Linked DNA regions of Homo sapiens: all the other regions are linked to region 3. Evidence: fine-mapped QTL for protein levels in blood plasma. A gene starts in region 3. Each other region holds a variant in brackets. All regions are shown on one strand. Distances are between the middles of the regions. Region 1 overlaps MGMT (O-6-methylguanine-DNA methyltransferase). Region 2 holds the start of LOC105378560 (a long non-coding RNA gene). Region 3 holds the start of MGMT (O-6-methylguanine-DNA methyltransferase).

The links. PIP is the chance, under the fine-mapping model, that this variant and not a neighbour inherited with it causes the effect. Protein levels are from antibody-based Olink assays in UK Biobank. Linkage for the fine-mapping came from a reference panel and not from the study's own genotypes, which makes the PIPs less certain.
Region 1: its variant is fine-mapped to the plasma level of the MGMT protein (UK Biobank, PIP 0.95).
Region 2: its variant is fine-mapped to the plasma level of the MGMT protein (UK Biobank, PIP above 0.99). The variant lies in the coding sequence of MGMT. If it changes the protein, the assay may bind it differently, which can mimic a change of level.

What each region holds. Positions count from the first base shown.
Region 1 is chr10:129,653,032-129,660,121 of GRCh38, reverse strand. All of the region lies in intron 2 of MGMT (O-6-methylguanine-DNA methyltransferase), which reads right to left. Among named protein-coding and RNA genes, the nearest start is that of MIR4297, 190 kb to the left of the region's middle. The variant G/A (reference allele first, on the strand shown) is at 3,562.
Region 2 is chr10:129,704,570-129,711,659 of GRCh38, reverse strand. It overlaps MGMT (O-6-methylguanine-DNA methyltransferase), which reads right to left. Exons shown (of 5, transcript NM_002412.5): 3 at 3,617-3,765. It overlaps LOC105378560 (a long non-coding RNA gene), which reads right to left and starts at 3,610. Exons shown (of 2, transcript XR_946467.3): 1 at 1-3,610. RefSeq lists an enhancer at 1-409. The variant G/A (reference allele first, on the strand shown) is at 3,641.
Region 3 is chr10:129,462,543-129,469,632 of GRCh38, reverse strand. It overlaps MGMT (O-6-methylguanine-DNA methyltransferase), which reads right to left and starts at 2,392. Exons shown (of 5, transcript NM_002412.5): 1 at 2,337-2,392. RefSeq lists silencers at 2,093-2,292, 2,313-2,752 and an enhancer at 1,604-2,526.

The DNA of each region.
Region 1 (7,090 bases), 190 kb before region 3:
GGAGAGAAAGGAGGAAGTTATAAACTTAGCTCTGAAAAGACAAATGGCTGTTGGAATTGGCAGTAAAAAACCAAAATGTCGCAAGAAATAATTGTTCATTATTTAGAAGAAAAGCACCAAAGACCACGCAAATCCTTCACTGCACGGGTGATGAAAGAGAAAACACGGCCTCATCTTCCAGCATCTACTAATGCCATAGAGAGCTGGGGAGTGGGGCAGGGATATTCGGATGACCACCCTACGTCCTGTCGCCCGTGCCCAAACATCAGGTGCTGGGCATCCGCCATTACTCAATTTCAAAGGCAATCTTTAAGGAGGACTTTGGTTCAATTTAGACTTTTACTTCTGTTTTCGTGTCAGTCTATAAATGTCAGAACACTTTTTCTAAAGTTTAATACTGTTCCAGAAAAGCTCTCCTGGCAGCTACTCATGGAATATTTTCGGGCTAAACTGCTCTTCAAAATTTCACACAGTCATTCATCTTCAGGGCCTTTGTACATGCTACTTCCTCACCCCTCAATTTGCACTAACTCATCATTAAATAATAATGCCAGTAGCCTCGGAACTAATATGCATGCTGTGTGACTTTCACTTCTGTTCTCATGAGCAGGTACAATGGCCTGTGTTCTCCAGAGAGCTTGCCATGAAGCTAACTCCCTTACGCCGTGGATAGAGGCAGGATCTGTTCTATCTCCAGCCAAACGCATTTAGAAAACAACCCAGGCAGAGACAGCTACATCTGAGTATCTTTTTTTTTTTTTTCCACACAGGGAGTCTCGCTCTGCCACCCAGGCTGGAGCGCAGTGGTGCGATCTTGGCTCACTGCAACCTCCGCCTCCCAGGTTCAAGCAATTCTCCTGCCTCAGCCTCCCGAGTAGCTGAGACTACGGGTGTGCACCACCATGCCCAGGTAAGTTTTGTATTTTTAGTAGAGATGGGGTTTCACTGTGTTGGCCAGGCTGGTCTCGAACTCCTGACCTTAGGTAATCCACCTGCCTCGGCCTCCCAAAGTGTTGGGATTACAGGTGTGAGCCACTGCACCCGGCCTTGAGTATCTTCTGAAACAACATGAAGTCATCAGAACCAAGGATTTTTTTTTGTTATTGTTGCAGCCACAAAATCCAAAGCTAGTGTATTAAGATAACATTGAATGGTACCTATGCCACAGATGGAGCTAAAATGTATACAAGAAATTACAGCGACACCTGGGAGGCCTTGAATGCTACAGCTTACAGTAGCCTACAGGGGGCGTTTTCAGCCTTAGGGTTGGGCACGCGAGCTAAGGGCGAGAACAGCAGTTAAGGACACTGAGGAAGGGGCCATCTAGGCTTCAGGATGTTTGTAAACAGGCTGGAATCCAGCTAGCCAATCAGGTTAATACATTATGACACAGAAATGTGGTGTTAATTTCATTTCAATCAACTAAACTTACTTTCTTGCGAAGATAATTTCTTCCAGGACATGTCAAATCACTGCAGAACTCCAGGATGTGGTGAGCTCCCTTGCTTTTAAAGAGCAGGCTGGGCTTCAATTCTCAAAGCATGATATTAGATATTTAGATATGTGAAAAACTCACTGACGTTAATGGGAATAACATGGACTTTCAAAGCAAGATTTCAAAATGTTGGGGTTAAAAATCCTACTGAATTAGAATCAAATAAGTCTCTAAGAAATACTGGCAAGCTAACGCAGTGCATACCAGGCGTGCTCTGAGGGTCACCTGTCATTCAGCATTTTGGTGTTGCTCTCAATGCATATTTTATAAAACAAATAGAGTAGCAAATCCCTGTGTCTGTTTTAAGGTGGCAAGGCAAGGCGACGCTGTTCGTCATTAGTCAATAATAGAGCTGTGTTAGTCTAATGGTGCCGCTCTCCCTCCCTTGCAGACCTCCAGGGCAATCACCTGTAGAATTATCCCATCTGCTGCAGCGGGAGCCAGAAGCCCGTCTTCCATTTTAGTTCCTTACTTGGGATTCATAGAAGGGGGAAAAAACTCCACAATTAGGTCTTTCAAGAAAAAGAAAAGAAGCAAAAACAAAACAGCATAATAGGACCAGGGAGATCACCTTTAGGTTTTGAAAGACCCCCAGAGATTTGATGATCTTTGGGGGATGGGGGAGAACTACCAATCTCAACACCACATTAAATATACATTTACGAGAATTTCCTCAGCCAAAGAAAATAGGATAGAGGTGCCAATTAGGGAAGGGCCGGTTCAGGCTTTGCACTCATGGGATGGGGGCTCCTCACTGGAGGGTGGCAAATCCTCCCATTCCCAGCATCTCCATGACAACGGGGGCCTCATGAAGTCAGGCCACACTGCTAAGGGTCAGTGTGATGACTCCACACACGCTAAGAGGCCGCAGTCCTTGTGGGTCCTTGGGGGAGAGGGGGTGTGTGTGTGTGTGTGTGTGCGTGTGTGTGTGTGTGTGTGTGTGTGTGTGTGTTGGAGGAGCTGGCCAGCCTGTCCCCCCCCCAGCTCCAGCTCCTCCTCCAGGCTGTCAGAGGCCATTTCTTCAGCAGTCACCACATTTAAAACTCACCCCATCCCTCCTCCCTGCTTTAGAATTCTCCAAGACACTGACCAGCACCTGACTTTGAACTGTATTTTACCTGTTTCTTCTGTCTCACGCCTGCCCCACCTCCACCCCCAGACAAGACAAGGGGCGCCTCAGGGCAGGGTTTATCTGTTTTGTTTGTTGCTCCCCCCCCCACCCCCACAATCCCTAGAATGCAGGAGGTCCTTGCTAAGTATTTGTTACATTAATTAAAGGAAGCTGGTAGATTTCTGGCCTATTTCACAATTACTTGCCAATAAACAGTCACATACATGTGTATTCCTGAATTTTCAATGGAATGCATCAGATGGGTAGGAAAATCCCGATTCGAAGCACTTAAAACCAGCATGAGGAAAGGAAGCTAAGGGACAGTCGTCTGTGTCAACTCTGGGCAGGTAAACACACTTAAATCCCCAAGACAGGGTATCTGTCCCCAAATGAAACACAATTTGCAGTCTATGGGATCTTTTACAGTTACTTAGAACTTGCTAAGTGGTTGCAAATCCCTAGCCTAATTCATAGAGCTCACCTAACTCACAGTCATTGTGGCAGCTTTAGATGTCTTAGAAAATGAAGTGCACTATTTTCGCTGCCTTCTGCGTGGAAGTTCTTTTGGGTTAAGAAGCCCGAGAGTTGGGTCTGAGACGTGTGGAAAAACCCTCCTCCCAGCATGAAAGGAGAACCTTGGGGCCCCCAAATTACTAATCTAAAGGGGAAAGTCAAGCTGGAAACTGCTCAGGGCCAACCTGCCTCCCGTTGTATTCAGTCATCCCTCTGCTCACAGAGAGAAAGACATCTCTGATTGCCTCCTTTGGAGAGGCTTATCAGAAACTCGGTGCAACCACTTGACTCTCACCTACCTGTGACCTGGAAGCCCCTTCCCTGCTTCGAGTTGTCCCTGCCTTTCTGGACAGAACCAATGTACTTCTTACATATATTAATTGATGTATCATGTCTCTCTAAAATCTATAAAACCAAGCGGTGCCCCGACCACCTGGGGCAC[G/A]TGTCATCAGGACCTCCTGAGGCTGGGTCACAGGCGCATGTCCTTAATCTTGGCAAAATAAACTTTCTAAATTAACTGAGACCATCTCAGATATTTGGAGTTCACACCAGAAAGGACATGCCGATGCTGCTTCCAGAGGCCTGGAAGTAGGCCCCACCCCTCCTCACCCTGCAGGAGGCAGTACCAAGGAACTCCCAGGGAGATGCCCAACCAGGAGCCCTCCCATGCTCGGGGCTGAAGCCCATGTTCACTGGGCAGATAGTGGCCACAACTGGTTCCCAAGAGAGGGGCTCTTGCTGCCCTCATGCCATGGATGTTTGTCACCTCCCGACTGCAGTCCAGACTCCACTGAAGATGAGTCCTGGGTGACAGCTTACATAGAACTGTAGTGCCATAGTCCTGAAGGGACTCCAGGAGGGGCACCGCACCAACTACCTCACCTCTCCTTGGCCTTTCACCTGGGTTCCCTGGAATCAACAGTCTGCATCTGTGATGTGTCTGGTTAATTCAGGGGTTGTCCGGTGAAGAGCTTGGCTAGCTGACCCTTCTGAGACCTTAGCTCAGTCCCCAGGCCAGGGCACCTCTGACTGCTGCCCGGCTAAGCTATCTGGGACCGCTGTTGCCAGTTTATTTAAACACGTGGAACTTCTCATCCACGTTCTTTCAGTGCAAAATCAGTGCCTGCTCTATATGGACACTGTGCGTTTCCTCCAGAAACACATGCGCTGTGTGTTTACCATGTGCTTTTGCAAGATTTAGAGAGCATGAGCATGAAGAGAAAATCCAAATCCATCCAAAGTGAAATTCCCTCCTGCTCACGTAACGACAACCCACAGCTATACTGAGGAACAGCTCCCTTCCTGCCTTCACTGTTAAACAGTGATTTTCATTTATATTTTTCTCCTTTTCAAGGGATTACAAAGTGTTTTACAAACTCATCCCTGTTTGTTTATGCCAGTCCCTCAGCCGGGCGAGTCACACACGAACATGCACAGAAGCCACGAGAGCTCTCCTGCAAGGGTCACAAGGAGACAACAAAGGTCTGGACGTTTAAAACTCAACGGGGAAGATTTTCCTGCTCTCCCCACCAGCTTCCGGGATGAGGCCCTCTAGAAGCGTCAGGGTCAGCGCCTTGGAAAATCAGACCTTAATGGGTTTTAAAAATGGTAATGTGTGAAAGAAATGTGTCTTCAACTGAGTCTAAAGACAGATAAACATTGACTTCCAGCCATGCAAACCACTTCTCCGCATGCTCGGAGGCGGCCCCTCCACACCAGGCCAGTGAGGCTGCTCAGGTCTTCACTCCTGGCAGACACACAGGAAACCACGGCAGTGCGCAGCCCTGCATCTGCCCAGGCCCTCCGCGGGGCCCCCACGGGACTGTGTCCCACCCCTACACTGGCTGGGGAATGGCTGCAGTGCTTTCTTTCCATGCATACCTCCGGGTGGGTGCACAAACGTCCTTAAACCAGGAGCACCTCGGTAGTGTGCTGACACCAGGGATGAGGGTGCAGCGGTCACCCTCTCCATCGAGCCTGAATGGTTTCCTCCCACTGCTGCTCCACAGGCACTTCCTTAGATGCAAGGAATTTGCAAAGACCATTATAAGTGATTTCCACTGATTTTCAGTGGGAAATCCCACTTCTCTGAGTTAGAAGAATAGTTTTCTTCTCAGGCATTTGTAGAAACAAGTGACCCACTGTGGCTTGTGCCGTCACATTCCAAATGCCCATACAGCCCCCCACCCTCAGGTATCACGTGTCATGACAAGGGGCCTAAGGTAGAGGTATGGGCAGGAGGGGGCCCTTGTCCTGCCTGCCAGGGCCAGACAAGCTTCCCGAGACCCCGGCCACCTTCCTCATACCTCAAGAGGCTTGCACACCCCTGCCTCCTCCTGTCTCTCCAGGGACTTACCCACCCATACAGGCCCTGTGCTCCAGGCAGCAGGTCCCTCACAGCCCTCCAAGCAGCCAGTGGGAATGGGGAATGCCCTATCTCAGCCCCCGCTGAGGCTGGTGTCTCGATCTGAGGTTCACAGTGACGGTCAAAGGATGCAGGCTCAGAGTGAGCAGGGGTATGTGATTTCTGTCCACTTAACACAATACCAAACTACATACTAAGGCACAGAAGGTAAAATATGAGCACCTTCTCTTCTACCACAAGAGGCTTCAAAGACATGGGAGAGTGTGGCAGGTGCCCGACCCCGCGTGCAGGTCCTCCAGGTCCCAGGCCTGTCTCTGTACCCGACCTGGGCACCTGCTCCACGCCCTGCACCCCTTTCCATCCTCGCCCTTCCCCAGCATGGATCTTCAGGTCTCTCTTCTCATGAAGCTGAGGTCTTGCCGTCTTCTCGGATCCCAAACCACAGATGGGCTACCTCACCATCCAGCTTCCCACCTGCATCTTTATCAGCACAGCTACTCCAGCTGCAAGGCGGGGGTCGGCGAGGCAGCCACCGAGGTGGGCAAGGACAGACAGGCGTGGAGGGTGCAGTAGTAGGGTGTGGCCCTCGCTCTGGGCCAGCTGTGCCCAGCACAGGCCGCAGTCTTGTCAAGGGGGAGGTGGGGTCTCCAAGCAGGGGTCTCTGAGGGCCACCAAGTTCTCCCCGCATCCCCAAAGGTGGCTCCACCTGGCCCCTTGACTGCAGGGCCGCTCTCCTCTCATCCCCAGCACAGGGTCCTCCTCATGCTTCTCCTGCCCCTAGCCCACCTGACACTCTTCACATCTGGAAATCTGTGCCCTTCATCCTAAACACCCTGGGCTGTGGGGCCTCAGTGATGCAGAAATAGCCTTCCCAGAAGGCTGTGACGGCCACCACGCTGTGCTTCCTGAGGCCTGTCCATTCGGCTCCCTGCCTCTTGTTTAGCAGAAGCATTGGCCATCACATGATGTAATCTTGCAAGCTGCCTGAGACATCTCATAGGGTGGGCCAGTCCAGTGCTGACCACAGTCAAGGGCCACCATCAGGGAGGCCACGTGAGGCCACTCCATTGGTGATCAGGGTCGGGTTTGCAGGCGTTACCCCTCCCACACGGGCCATCTCTGCAGCACCTCGGCCTGGGGGCCACTCAGTGTTTTGTAGAGGGAGCAGCCTTGATTAGTAATACACACACATGGCAATTACAGGATCACCTCAAATGGTTTCAGGATGGGTGTGAAACTGAGCAGTTACTGTTAGCAATAAATCCAGAGGATACTGGCCATCCTGAGGGGGTGGAAAATGATCAATGTTTTCAAATACAAAAGGACAGAGACTTAGGGATGCTAATTTTCAAAGCCTATATGATTTAACTTTTTAGTTCAGATTATTTGACAGTTAACTCCAGAGCAGGCTCGATGACAGAACGAGAACTGCTTATTAATAACCGGACATGAAGTCCAGTGGAGTAGAGTCTTGAAATAAAGGGTGTCTAGAAATAAAGACAAGGAAAGGCTGTGTATAACCCGGACCATGTTTCTCTTTTGTCACAGCCGACCGGACGACCAAGCATTCTGGGACAAGATCAGTGCCACTGATATATTCTCAGCC
Region 2 (7,090 bases), 240 kb before region 3:
ACCAAAAAAGCCAAAAAACCCCAAACCAAGAAAACTTTGACTAATTTTATTTTAGGAAATGACCTGACTAAAACAACACTTGAACGAGAAATTAGAATATGCTTCACTGGACAGCTCAGCTTTCCTCTTAATCCCTTCAGCAGAACAATGAGGCTTCCTTCCAGAGCCTCAGCGCCCTCCCACTGGGAAATCCCACCTGTCCCAACCTCACAATGAGGCAGCCCCGGGGACCTCCGGACACCCGGTCGGGAAAGGCAGCTTCACTGTCCCTTGGCAGAAATACTTCAACAGCTACCTAGCTACTAACCTGTCTTTGGAAATTCCCCAAGATAAGAAGTTGAACCATCTGAAATTTCTGGTATTTGATAAGTTTTAACCTAAAAAATAGCAATTTCATATGGTTCAACGTAATGCATATTTTTGTGGTTAGCCTTAAAAAGCAAATCACAAACAGCATGTTCGTTCCAGAGAGGAATCCTGGAAGGTGAGGTGGTACCGCGAAGAGGCCGTGTGCAGGAGAGAGGGTCTTTCAGCAGCAGGACAGGCCTGAGGAAGGGATGAGGGCTTGGTACTGCGCAGTCAGAAGTTTTACCAGCCAGGCCTTCAGAAAGAAATGGTCAATGTGCTGGAACTCAAGGATGAGCTCAAATACAATCACATTTTTAAAAATGTTGACATAGACAAACCAGGTTGAAATAGATAAACCTGGTCTCAATCTCAGAAGTGAGACTATGGTGAAAAATGATATGCAAAAGTATGTTAAACATATACAGAAATTAAAATGTGCAGAAAAAGGAATTGGTCAAGGAAATGTTCATTCCATGTTACAATGGACCCGCTCCTCTCAGTCTGCAAAGCAGGTTGATTTCTGTTACTCCACAGCTTCCAGGCGGCTCTGAGATGTCAAAAGACTTTTCCTCTAGAAGACCTGCCCCCTCACTGTTGATTTCACTGATGTTACAAGATAACAACCTGGACAGAGAGCAAACCAAACTCATGCCAGACAGAGAGGGGCGTATCCACATCTGGGAGAACCAATTAACTCCCTGTTAGCAACCATCCACCATCCACCTCCCCTTCTTCAAACAGTAAAATCCATACACCTGGCCCCTGCCCAGGAGTAAACGATTGAGCTAAATGTTAAAAACCTGGCTTACACATGCTGTGGTGGGGAATCCCAGCCCCCACAGCAACCACTAACCATCCGCAGGCAGGCCTGGCCCAGGGGACTCCAGCCCCTACCCTCGAGAGAAGGCCCTGAGCTCAGCACCCTGGGTCTGCAGCCAGCCTCAGAGTTCTAGAACACCAAGAGAGAAGGATGTGAGCGGCTGTCGCACTACCATCCCAAAACTTGGCTGGAGTGGACCTCGTCCCAGCTAGAGGTATCCACCCGCACTGTAGGGCTTTCCAAGAGGGGCAGGGCCACGGGGGAGCCAGACAGCCTTTACCAGTATCCTGGCGGCTACTCTGAGGTCTTCCTGGTCACCAAGACCTATCATGACCTGCCAGCCCAGGAAGCAGCCTGGCCTGGCGTGGGCTGAAAGCCAGGGAGGCAGGGGTAGGTGTGGCCAATCCCAACTCTGCTTAAGCACTAGGGACTTGACTGAGAAGCCCCAGGGGCCCGCCTGTCCTCGGCTCTAGGAGCAGCAAACACTGCCATGGGCAGAAGTGAGGGGGAAAAGGCTCAGCGGGGGTTCAGTGCTTGCAGGGGTGGTTTGGAGAGTGTCTGATTATTTCCGGTGCCACCTTCCTTGCTGGCCACTCCTGCCCTGGAGCTCCTGTCAGCAGCTGCGGAGGCCTCCTCCTCCGGTTCTTCCTGGCCTGCCTGAGAGCACACCACTCTCTGGACCCTGGTGAGACCAGGCCAGCAGGGTCTAGCTCCATGGCCAGGGCCACCATATGACTTGGAGAAAACTAACGATTTTCATGGAACTTTTGCCCCTATGTTTTTCATGAAGTTGCCCAACAAACCTTAGGTAAACTTCAGGGGTTTGCAGGCTCATTCTCCCAGCCTCCATATGATTATGCAGATACCTCCTGCCCTGGTTTTGTAAGAGAACTTTTCTGTCCTGAGACCTTACATTTCAGCTCACATATTTCACAGGCTTAAGGAGAAGAAAAGCCTCTGGACAGCTCTTCAGCCTTGCTCCTCCTGGCAGGCGAACCCCCAAAAAGAGATCGTATAGAGAAGAGTTCACCACTCTAAGATCCCCAAGCCCCAACTTTAATAAACAAAACCAATCTCTGACTTCCTTGGGCCATTCAGCAACATCCTGCCCTGTGCCCGGCCCATCAGGTGCACAGTGAGCAAGGTCCCCCACACCGTCTAATTGGCTCACTGGCTTGTGGCGCTGGGGAGAGGTGGCCCCCAGCTGGCGGCAGCCCAGGAGGCTTTGGTAGTGCCTTTGTCCTGGCAGCAGCCCATTGGTGGGCAGAGATGATGAGAGGTTTCTTGGACGTTTGTGGTTCCATGTAAAGGCCCACCCACTCTAGCTTCCTATCTGCCCATCCTAGAGATCCCCACTGAACCCTTCTGGAGACAGTTCTGTATGATTCAGAGGACAGCAAGGTGCCTGGTTCATTATAGCTGCACAGCTTCAGTTCATTATGCACAAAACGTGCTCATGACTTCATATGTTCGCCTGTCTGACTTGGTTAGTGAACTCAGGTATTAGCCCAACCTTCAGGGGTTTCTTTACCTGCTTCCCTTGAAAAGTTCTCTCCATTTTCAAGTTTGTTTTGTGCTGAGAAGCACCGCAGCAATTAGAATACTGTTAAGCTTACCCAGCAAATCTGATCTGAAATTCAAAATTGCTTTAAATTCACCACATCTAAAATCTCAAGGTAATTTTTCCCTTTAAGGATATATAAGTGTACAACTCCATATATACATCATATATGAATATATGTTCATTTATACACAAAAATGATTATGAAAAACTCACTATGCAAAATAAATTTCTGGCATGTGTCTGGAATGATTTTAGTTGCTGTAATTAATTTCTGTATTGAGCAGAGCCAAACACAAGCTTTAAAAGAAATGTCTGGGAAATGTTTTAGATTATCACAAGCCTTAAGCAGGCTACATACAGGTAAGTTCTCAAGTCATCTCTTAAGAAAGAATATGTCTAACTCTGGTACGTTTGAGAAATTAAATGTAAAATTATTTGAGAAGCTCCAATGCTGCTACCTGCTATGATGTAAGTGTCACCAACAGAGTGTATGGAAATAGCTAAATGTCCACGCACAAGTCTCGTTTTCTGTGCTGTTGGCAAGCAGATAGTTGAAGTTCACAATAAGCTTATTGAAAAATTTACTGCCATTCAGATGTGTTCCTATTTAAACCTTTCAGCCAGCGAGAGTCAAGAGTCGATCTGCATGCTTCATTTTTATTGCCTTTGCCAAGAATTATGCAACCCTGTGCCAAAACTAACACAAGTGTTGGAGTGGGTGGAGGCGGCGAACCCCCGTCCCTCCAGCTCGGCCAAACGCTGCCTCTGTTTAGCTGATGTAAAAATACCAAGTTGGTATACTCAATAAAATGAACTGTGATGTCAGCGATCGTTAATAAGTCAAGCTCCCCAAAGGAAACACCGCAGATGGCTTAGTTACCGACCTTGCTGGAAAACGGGATGGTGAA[G/A]AGCCGGCACGGGGAACTCTTCGATAGCCTCGGGCTGGTGGAAATAGGCATTCAGCCAGGCTGTGCACTGCATCAGGGGCTCCGGACCTCCGAGAACCGCAGCGGGGGCTGGGACCTCCACGGCACTGCAAAAGTGAGAACAGGGGCTTAGTAAACCTCTGGGCCCTGCCTCCACACATCGGAAAAGCAAACACCTACTGCATCTAAACGGGCAAACACCTGTGGCTGCTTCATGGGCACACACGTCTCAACTAGCTGTGCAGCAGAAAGGGGGACTGGTGAGGCAAGGACGCACCGAGGCCCCGCAACCACTCTCCACCTTCAGGCCTCCCAGGACGTGTGTTCTGAGAGTCTGCATCACAGCGCAAGGCAACCCAAGTGACAGTGTCCCTTTGTAAGACTTACAGATGGCACGGCTGCACCTAAATCATCAAGCACTCACTATTGAAAACAGTTCCCAGAAATATCGACACAGTCATTAGACTGCACCACACGGCCCACCCCACCCCGAGTCCAACAACGCAAGGCCACATCCACGCGTTCTGCCTCCTCCATGGCCGTGTGCTGTGTTCAGGGGATTCCTCAGGGTTTACCTGCAGTCCCCTGATTCCCACGCTCCAGAGGGCCTACTCTGTGTTTCCTTCATCGGTGAGTCTGTCCTCTCGGGGGCAGCCCTGTGCCTCGTGTGCCTGTGTCTACTTGGTTCTTTCTCAAACCTTCCTGGTGTTTGTTTGTTTGTTTTGAGACGGAGTTTTGCTCTTGTTGCCGTGGCTGGAGTACAATGGCTCGATCTTGGCTCACTGCAACCTCCATATCCCGGGTTCAAGTGATTCTTCTGCCTCATCTTCCCTAGTAGCTGGGATTACAGGCGACTGCCACCACGGCCAGCTAACTTTTTGTATCTTTAGTAGAGATGGGGTTTCTCCATGTTGGCTTCATCACGTTGGCCAGGCTGGTCTCGAACTCCTGACCTCAGGTGATCCGCCCGCGTGGGCCCCCCAAACTGCTGGGATTAAAGGTGTGAGCTACTGCGCGGCCCTCTTGGTTCTTTCTGGACACTCTCCTCCCTTTGATTTCCTGCAGTTTGAACCTGTACCTCTGGGAGTCGCTTCAGACTGTTTTGTGGCTGCTTCTGTTTGGGGTGTTCATTCATCTGTGGCTTCGACCTGGTGGGCCCTCATGGAAAGGATTCCCCATCTCCAGCAGGGGTGGATTTTCTGGGGCTGTGTTCCACGGACTGAGGACATGGCCCTGAAGGGGAGGTCTCCCGCTGCCACCTGGGGCTGTGGAGTGCATGACACATCCCGTTGTGATTTCAAGTGCTGTGGACCCCCGTGGGAAGCCCTGGCCCTGGGTCCGATTTCTTCAGGTGACTCCCTTCCTTCCTTCCCTGCCTCTCGAGGCCCCAGACAAACGGCATGCTTCCCCGGGACTTCCCAGGCTTGGAGCACGGAAGTTTTCTAGTTTCCTTCTGCAGACAGTGCTGCTCCTCAGGCTTCTGTGAAAAGGTGGGAAACGTCACTGCACTGTGGATGCTGTGGACGCACAGCTCCCGCGGGCCCTTCACCCTTCCTTCCTGGGCTGCCTTGGGGGGCGTGCGCTGAGATCTACAGAATGTTTCTCCTCGACACACCCATGCTGCTCTGGGAGGGTCCCAGTGAAGGCTTCACTTGCCTGGACATGTGGCCCAGCACAGGCGGCCGATGCAGCCGGGAGCACCGTCCCAACTCTGTCCACACAAGGTATGCACGGCCAGTCCATGGAGAGGAGGCAACAGAGCCATCCCGGACGTAGGACAGACAGTGTGAACGTAGACGCAGAGTGGAGGCCTCGGGGACTGAGACTCACAGAAAGGTGGGCAAGGACTGTGCGTGTCAGGGCGGGAAGGGCACTTTGTCCTATGAGTGCGGCCCACAGTGTGACTGGTGGGGGCTGGGGGCCCCTGGCAAGAGGCAGAAGGCACCGCAGCTGCCCTGACGCAGGGCTGCAGCAGTAAGAACATGGCAATGGTGCAGGGAAGAGCTGGAGGACCATGAAGCTGGGGTCAGGGATGACTCTCAGCTCCAACCCCAGCTCTGTGCGGATTCAGCCTGTCTGCCCGGCCCTGTGTGGATGGGGCTGTTGCCCTGGCCCCGTGCTGATTCTGCTGGTCTCCCTGGCCTTGTATGAATGAGGGCCTGTCTCCTGGGCCCCGTGCAGAAGGGGACCTGTCTCCCCAGCCCTGTGTGGATGGGGCCTGTTGCTACCGCTGGTGTCCAGGAGGACCACAGCCCCGGAGCTGCAAACAACTGGCATTTCACTTTGTATCACAGAATTGGAGGCTGTTTTAGAAAAGAAGATGTAGTCACAACTTCTTAAAACACCTTCACACAAAGAGCTCAGATGATCTCTGGAGCGATTAGTTCTCGCTTTTCCTGTGAGGTAAAAACCAAGCTTGTACAAATCTGAATAAAGTCAAAAGTACATAATGAGGCAAGAGATAAAAGGAAGCCGAACACCTTCCTTATAGTTAAAAAGGTTTCCTCTCTTATGCAGTTAAAGCGGAAATAAAGATAACTATAGCTTACACGTCTAGTTAAACAAACACAGCCTTTCGTGTTTTGGGTTTGTGTTAAAGATGATACAAATTACTTTGGCTTAAAGTGTACTGTGGGCGGAAATACCCTGGCACATCCATTCAGAAAAGAAACCAGGGCCTCAGCAGCACGAACCTCTTTTGCATTCCATCTGGGATACTCACATTTTAACAAGAGACAATTAAAAACGGCAAAGCTGGGATCTAAAGTTCTGGAGCTTCTGCCTGAGTAAATGCCTATGGTGGCGTTTCCATTTCCCCAGAAGACAGCAGACATGCCCAGGGGCACACACGGCCATGGGCCTGCGTCTGCGACATCTACAGTGCGTGGTGACACCATGACCAAGCCCACGGGGCGGCAGGGAGAAGCTAAGGAGAGGCACAGAACTGCACCCGTGTTGTTATTTTCGTGTGGAGCGGTGCTTGCCTTCCATTGTTGGGGGAGATGTGGGGGAAAGAGACCCAGTGAAGGGTGTGTCCAGGGTTACTTCGCTTTGAGGTCCTGCAGGTGCAGAAATGTGCATGTCATCCGACAGCAGGGGCGGCGACGGAAGACCTCGGGCCAGTCTCACACGCTGTCCTGTGCTGGAGGCTGGGTCTCTGGGCTGGAGCATTTTGTGGGTGTAAAAGTCTCTGCCGAGATCCTCGGGTCTTTCTAAAAATGGACCTTTTTGGGTGAGATGCACATAGGGGCCCCCATACACTGTTTTTCACGGTGGAGCAGGAGGGTGGTCAGAGGTTTCCAAGCACACAAATCCTGACGGTTTTAAGGAAGGAGCCAGAGAATGAAGGGAAAAAGAAGGAAGCTCACTAGGATGACCGACAGCCACGGATAACTGTGACCAGCAGTCGGACCTGTGAACCAAGCCCAGCAG
Region 3 (7,090 bases):
AGGAAGGACCGTAGCAACAGCCCAAGAGCCGAATGAGCACAGGGCCCTGCAGGGTCTGGGAGGCTCAATGTGTCCCCTGGAGGGACTAGAGTCCCAAACGGAAGTCAAAAATCTCAGGGCAAGTGGATCTGGACATGGAACTTTATGCTGGGGAAGGGGGTCAGAATGAAGTGCAGAAACAAGAATAATGCTAAAGGAAAAGATAATGCAGAAAATTCAGTTTTGCCTCCATTTTTTTTCTATCAAAGAGAATATACTGAAAAGAGCATTAGCACCAAAAAGAAAAATGGAAGGTCTGAATCACTGGCTCCTAAATGTGTGTCCTCTGCAAAACAGAACAGACAATTTAGTAACTTTATTTTATTATAAAATACTGAAAGAGTCAGGGTTTTGGTGTCCTAAGAAAGGGTGGGAAGAGGACTGGAGAGGAACAAACTCTGAGGGGGCAATGGGGAAGGCAAGTTCTTTTTCAGGCCCTTCCTACCCCCTTCTTCCCTGCAAAAGGACAGAGGAGGCCCTGATTGAGACACCTGGGGAGGAAACCCAAACAACGAAAAGTAAGGCCCAGGTGATATCAAAGTAAGACCTCAACAAGGTTCAAGAATCTGAGCAGCTGAACAAGGTGCTACCCAATGTATACCTAGGGCTCTATTTCTTTCAACCTTACTAACAGCAAAGCCTTTTTAAAGTAGTGCCTAATACTATTAGTTAAATCCTTATTTTGATACAGATTTTTTTGTTTCCCCTTCAGGACAGTTTCACTCTCGTCGCCCAGGTTGGAGTGCAATGGCGCAATCTCGGCTCACTGCAACCTCCGCCTCCCAGGTTCAAGCAATTCTCCTGCCTCAGTCTCCCAAGTAACTGGGATTACCAGCATGCACCACCACGCCTGGATAATTTTTGTGTTTTTAGTAGAAACTGGGTTTCACCATGTTGGCCAGGCTGGTCTCAAACTCCTGACTTCAGGTGATCCACCCACCTCGGCCTCCCAAAGTGCTGAGATTACAGGCGTGACCCACTGTGCCTGGCCCAGATTTTTTTTTTTTAATGAAGATATATACATTGAAAAGTACCTGAGTATAGCTCCGTACTGGTGGTCTACTTCATCCAGGCCCCTGACTGTGGCAGACACTACTCCACTATTCAAATTCCAACCCGAGACAGAGGGCCCAGGAAGAAAGACACGCGGCAGAGCAAGGCCAGCTCTCCTCTGCTACTTGCAGGCAGACTCCGGGTCTGGGCAAGTATCCTGGCCCTCTGAGTTAACGTGATATTAACAATCAGCCAGGCTCTTGACGCGGTTTCCTTCAAAGTTTTCACACCCCCACCCACCAGGTGCGCTAAGCTTTGGGTTTTTAAAATCTTGTTCATCTCCCAGAGTGTTTTAGCCATTGAGAGGGCCCTGAAAATAACAAAACCATCTCCTAGACACCTGCCCAGGGATGGGGGAGATGACGGGAGAGCCTGACTTAACAGATACTCTATAGGTTTCTATTTGGATGTCTATGTAAATAACCAGTCTAATTCTCAGCTCTCTGTGCTTAACATTCTACTGAGAACAGCTCTCTGGACCAAGCCGCTTCCCTGTCTGATGATGATCTCAGCAGGCATAGGTTGCACACACATGTACAAAGTCTGCTTTCCAGGACAGAAAGCCAGCTACTCAGCTGAAGCAACTGAGAGCAAACACCACCCTGAGATTTCAGGAGATGATGAACCCAGGAGTGCGAAATACATAGTTCAGAACTCCTCTGCGGTGTTATAACCGACATTACGGTGCCCAGTGTGTGTGGCTCTCCAGCGAGCCTTGCTTACTCTAAGTGTTGATGAATACAGTTAGGGTATGATGTACACAAACACCAGCCATAGTAACCAGAAGGCCCCTAGAACTTGGCCTCCAGCAGGAAGGAAATATGGGACTCTGCCTAAGTATGCTAAAGGGTTGCTGCAAGCCAAGGCCCGCGCAGGGGCTTCTGGAAGCTTCCTGGAGCAGCTGGCGGAGGGAAAGCTGGCAGCATGGAAGGGTAGGAAGAACCCGGGGCCCGGGCCTGGGGCTGGCACCTAGAGGTAAGGCAGGGGCTGCCACGACCCCCGCCACACGCCAGTCCACAGTCACTGCAGCGCAGCCTAGTCCAGGAACCCCAGGCCCGGGGAAAGGCTGGGCAACACCTGGGAGGCACTTGGGGCGCACCTGGAGCTCGCCCGGGATGGGTGGGGGTCAGGGCGGCCCCACACCCGACGGCGAAGTGAGGGCGCCTGCAGGACCACTCGAGGCTGCCACCGTCCCGAGGGAGAGCTCCGCACTCTTCCGGGAGCGAGGCGACCCAGACACTCACCAAGTCGCAAACGGTGCGCACCGCGAGGACCTGCGGGCGTCGGGACGCAAAGCGTTCTAGGGGCGCGGGCTGTCCCAGCATATCCGGGGCGCGGGGGCGGGGCCGAGGGGCACGGGGATGGCGGCGTGGGGCGGGGTCTAGAGCGGGGCGGAGCCGAGGACCTGAGAAAAGCAAGAGAGCGCGCGGGGGCGGGGCCGGGGCGCGCGGGGGCGGAGCTGGGGCGGAGCCCGGGAGGGGCGGGGTGTTCCCGCCCGACCGGGTCGGCGCATGCCCTGTGCGGCGGCGCCGGGCCTGAGGCAGTCTGCGCATCCTCGCTGGACGCCGGCACGCCGGCCCTGGTCCTCCGGCAGCGCCGCTGCCCTGTGCGCCTGACCCGGATGGCCCTTCGGCCGGTACAAGCCGGGCGGCGCCTTCCCAGCTTCCGCCTGAGGCTCTGTGCCTTAGTTTGCCAAATGGCCCGTACCTTTTCCTGTCACAGGGATAGTCCGCGGGCGTGCAAGCGACCTGCCACGTGCCCGAGTGGTCCTGAAAGCGCGCGGGGGTCGTAGGACGGCGCCCGCTTAGTGAGAATCCCGGTCCTGCTCGGGGCGGCTACGCTGAGCCCGGAGCGCGAGTCTCTCCCCTCCTGGTGCCGCTCCCCTAGTCAGGGACCCCCAGACCAGCAGAGACCCTGTCAGGGGGCCGTGGGGGCAGCCTCCAGGGCCTGTGGTGGGCGATGCCGTCCAGGGGCTGCAGTCACCGATGGCCTAGACACTGCCAGAGCCTGACTCAGCCGCTCTCCAGAGAGCACACAGGGTGCCAGGCCCTGCTTGGGGTTGTGTGGACGTTATTAGGAGTTGAATTGTGTCCACCAGAGAAGCTATGTTGGAGTCCTAACTCCCAGTACCTCACAATGTGACCTTATTTGGAGATGGGGACTTTACAGAAGCCATCAATTAGTGGGCCCCTCATCCAGTATGACTCGTGTCCTTATAGGCAGAAGGCCGCTTGGGGAGGAGGATTGGAGGGCTGCACCTGCAAGCCACCAGAAGCCTAAGAGGACAGACCCTTCCCTGGAGCCTTCGGAGGGAGCAGAGGACACTCTTCCCTGGAGCCTTCAGAGGGAGCAGGATCCTAACACACCTGGGTTTCAAACTTCTGGCCCCCGGAAGTGTGAGACAATAGGTTTCTGTTGTTTTAAGCCACTCAGTGTGTGGCACTTTATTATGGCAGCCCCAGGCAATGGGTACAGAAACCATTGTCTCTAACGTGGTTGGCATAAGCACCCCAGGGAGTAGTATCATCCCTGGAGGCTTCGGAGAGGTCACACACCCCTTGGCAGGATCCCATCCAAGGCCCACATGTTCTAAGCCACCATGCTACGGGCCTTCTAGGTTCTGTTTGTTATCTTAATGGAAAGGGGTCTTCACCTTCCCGGTGAAGTTTCCCTGTTGGGATTCGGCCAATGCTCATACCTTCGTATTTGTGACTTGCAGGATCCAACATATTAGCATGAGTGATAAGGGTTGTTCAGAGGAGAACTTCAGCAGGATTTGCTTTGGGATGAGCCCTGGTGACAATACAGGCTGCATCATTGATCCTCTGAGGTTCCCCACCCCGACCCTGCCTTGGATGAGACATGTTTTAAATAGCTGCTTGTGGGAAATAAACTAGGCCCTGAGTACACGATATAATGGTCAAATCAAGGCACTTTTTCCCCACTGAACCTGGACACAGCCTCGGAATCCTTCTCAACACTGTGTTCCAAGCAGCCATTCACATTTAAACTAATGTGGAAGGACAGATGAAACATGTTTGCCCTTGGCTCTGGTTTTTTCCATTAGCCTTCTATAAGACTTCGGGAAACTCGTCTGACTTCTCTAATCCTCAGTTTCATACTCTGTAAAGGAGTCTCATGATAACGTACCCTACGTGTGTACAAACTATCCTTCCATATTAGGGCATGTGTGCATAGGGAAAATAAACCACCAGCACCACACCACACTACTAAGAAATAATGCTATACACCTGGCCACTTACAGCCTGTTACTACCAGGACCCAGTTAGAACCGGGATCTTAATAGAACCAAAGGAAAAACAATGCCGAAATGGAATCAGAGTGCCGACTGATATTCTAACAAGTGTGCTGTTAAGTAGTTTTGCAGTTAACACATGACTCATACGTTTATCTGAATAATATTTTAAGACGAATCCCTAAACTCTTAAGAAAAAGAGACTGGCCAGTCTTAGCATCTCTAATTCCCCACCCTAGGAAAGAAAGGCCAATGTGGTCATCCAAAGGCCCTTTAGGAGGGCCCTGTGGGAATGGGGAGGCGGTCCACGAGAGAAAGTGCTGGCTTCCCAGGGAGATGTGTGGACCTGGCCCTGGCTGTACTGAAAGAACTCAGTCCCCTTGCTGGCGTGGTGGGAAGAACTATGTGAAGGGCCACAGCTACTTCAGTGGTAAGGACTGTGTCAGGGGCTCCAGGATCAGGAGCCAAATAAGGGTCTCAGTGCAGAGGGGAAAGAGGAAAAAGGCCACCACCTGACCAAGGACTGGCCTGCAAAAGACCAGGATTCAAGGATGTGACTGCTTAGGCTGTCTGATGAGCAGAACTCAAACTCACACTCCTTACACCTGCTGGTGCAAGCTCCTCCCTTCATCATGGTAATTTCAAAAACCCAAGTTTTCATCAAGAGCTCCCCACGCCTCTCCCCCTTGTCCCATTACAATCTCATCATCGCCTGTGTGTTCGTCCTACTGTTAAAGGAACACAGGATGGCTCCAAAGCCGGGAGGTCGCCGGGTCCACTGAAGAGTAAGGAACACAGGACAGGGAGGCTCGGATGTGGTGCCAGCCCTGCCCCTCACTGAGCAACCACCTGACTTCTCTGTTCATAGGATGACAGTGCAGGACTGGTTGGGTGAGATTCCTTTGAGGTCTCCCATCTTCAGATTAACAAATCACAACCCCTTTTCCTCCAGACACAGATTCCTATGAAGAACTTTTTACAAAAGAGGTGGGAAAACCACAAAAGGGTATGCTCAACTGCAGTCCGACTTCCTCAAGGAGCTCCCTGGATTTCCTTTAAGATCAGCCAGCTTTCTTGTGGGCACTGGGAACAATGTTAATCTGCATAGTTTCTTTAAACATCCAAATGGATACCTTTCGGGTTAAGCAAATGAACATGACATGCGATTGCTTCTAATGATTTGCAACCCAAGAAATTTGTTTAATAAGCCTGTCTTCCCAAGCTACTTTTGTGACATTAGAGACCACTTACAACAAAGCTGCCTTCAGTAGTCAAACTTAATCCTTACTACCCTACCTTTGGGAAATGAAGGGATTTTATAACGATCACATAAAACCTTATGTGGTTTGAAAGCCCCAAACTCCGGACAAATGTGTGATGGTCGTGTAACAAAAGAAACATATTACAGAGCTCCCCACGTTAAGTGTTTTACATATAGTTTGCTTTTAGGATAGCATCTCAAGTGGAGGGTTTTGCTGATTAACACAATTGATTTTCTTAGTCCCAGTGTTCCTGTAAATGTTGGAGCCAAGAGCTGGAGTCAGCGCCTTGGACCTGGGAGAGGCCAGGAGGCCAGGGAGCCTCAAGCACTCTGGAGGAAGAAGCCTGAAATGAAAAGGTGGGGGCCATCGGTACCGGGGTTGAATGCCAGGTGCTTCTGATTACGCTCCTGTGTGACACTAGTTGTCAGCATGGCAGAGGCATCATGGTGTAACTGCAGCAGGGAGTGTAATCTACTAGTGGGCAGGAGAGAGGGCGGGAAGGAGGGACTTCAGGCTTTGCCTCACATAGAGGGTAAGGGAATGGTGCAGGGTGGAGAAAGGGGATGGAGGTGCAACTAAAACAGGAGGGGCTCCTTAGCTCTTGCTTTCCTCCAAAGAGGCAGAACATCCTCCTGCCAGGAGCCCCTGGGAGCTCCTGTTGAGAACTGGAACCCTTCAGGCCCTTTTGTGTCAAGAAGGGCATGGAGGAGAATTCCTAAAGAAACGAACCAGAGGCAGCCCACAGACTCCTATTAGAAAGACTTTTCCTGAAACTTCCTTTGCCAGTTTGTGGGTGCAGGGCCTGGAGATGGATTTATGGGACTCGTTGCAGGCCCCTGTGGGGCTTGTAGTGGAATGGCACACAGATGAGGAAATAGTTTGCTCTCTGGAGCAGCGACCTCTACCCAGGAGATGCGTAGGGGCAGTGGGAGTACGAAAGAGGCCCTTTCCTGCACTGACTGTCCCTGCAGGAAGCCCTTTCTTTTTTTTCTTTTTTTTTTTTTTCTCTTTTTCTTTTTTTGAATTGGAGTCTCTCTCTGTCGCCTAGGCTGAAGTACAATGGTGCCATCTTGGCTCACTGGAACCTCTGCCTCCCGGGTTCAAGTGATTCTCCTGCCTCAGCCTCCTGAGTAGCTGGGATTACAGGTGCACACCACCATGCCCAGCTAATTTTTCTGTATTTTTAGTAGAGACGGGGTTTCACCATATTGGCCAGGCTGATCTTGAACACCTGACCTCAGGTGATCCACCCACCTCGGCCTACCAAAGTGTCAGGATTACAGGCGTGAGCCACCGTGCCCAGCCCAGCAAGCCCTTTTCAAGAGCCCCAGTGTGCAGTGTAGCCCCTCACAGAGAAAACAGGCTCAGCCAGGATATCTGCTGGGGTTGGAGGGGTGATGCAAGGAAAGACCTGCAAGAGAAAATGCATGGCACTGGATGTCTCAGGGGAGGAGAACCATGCAGGTAAAGAACCACAGCT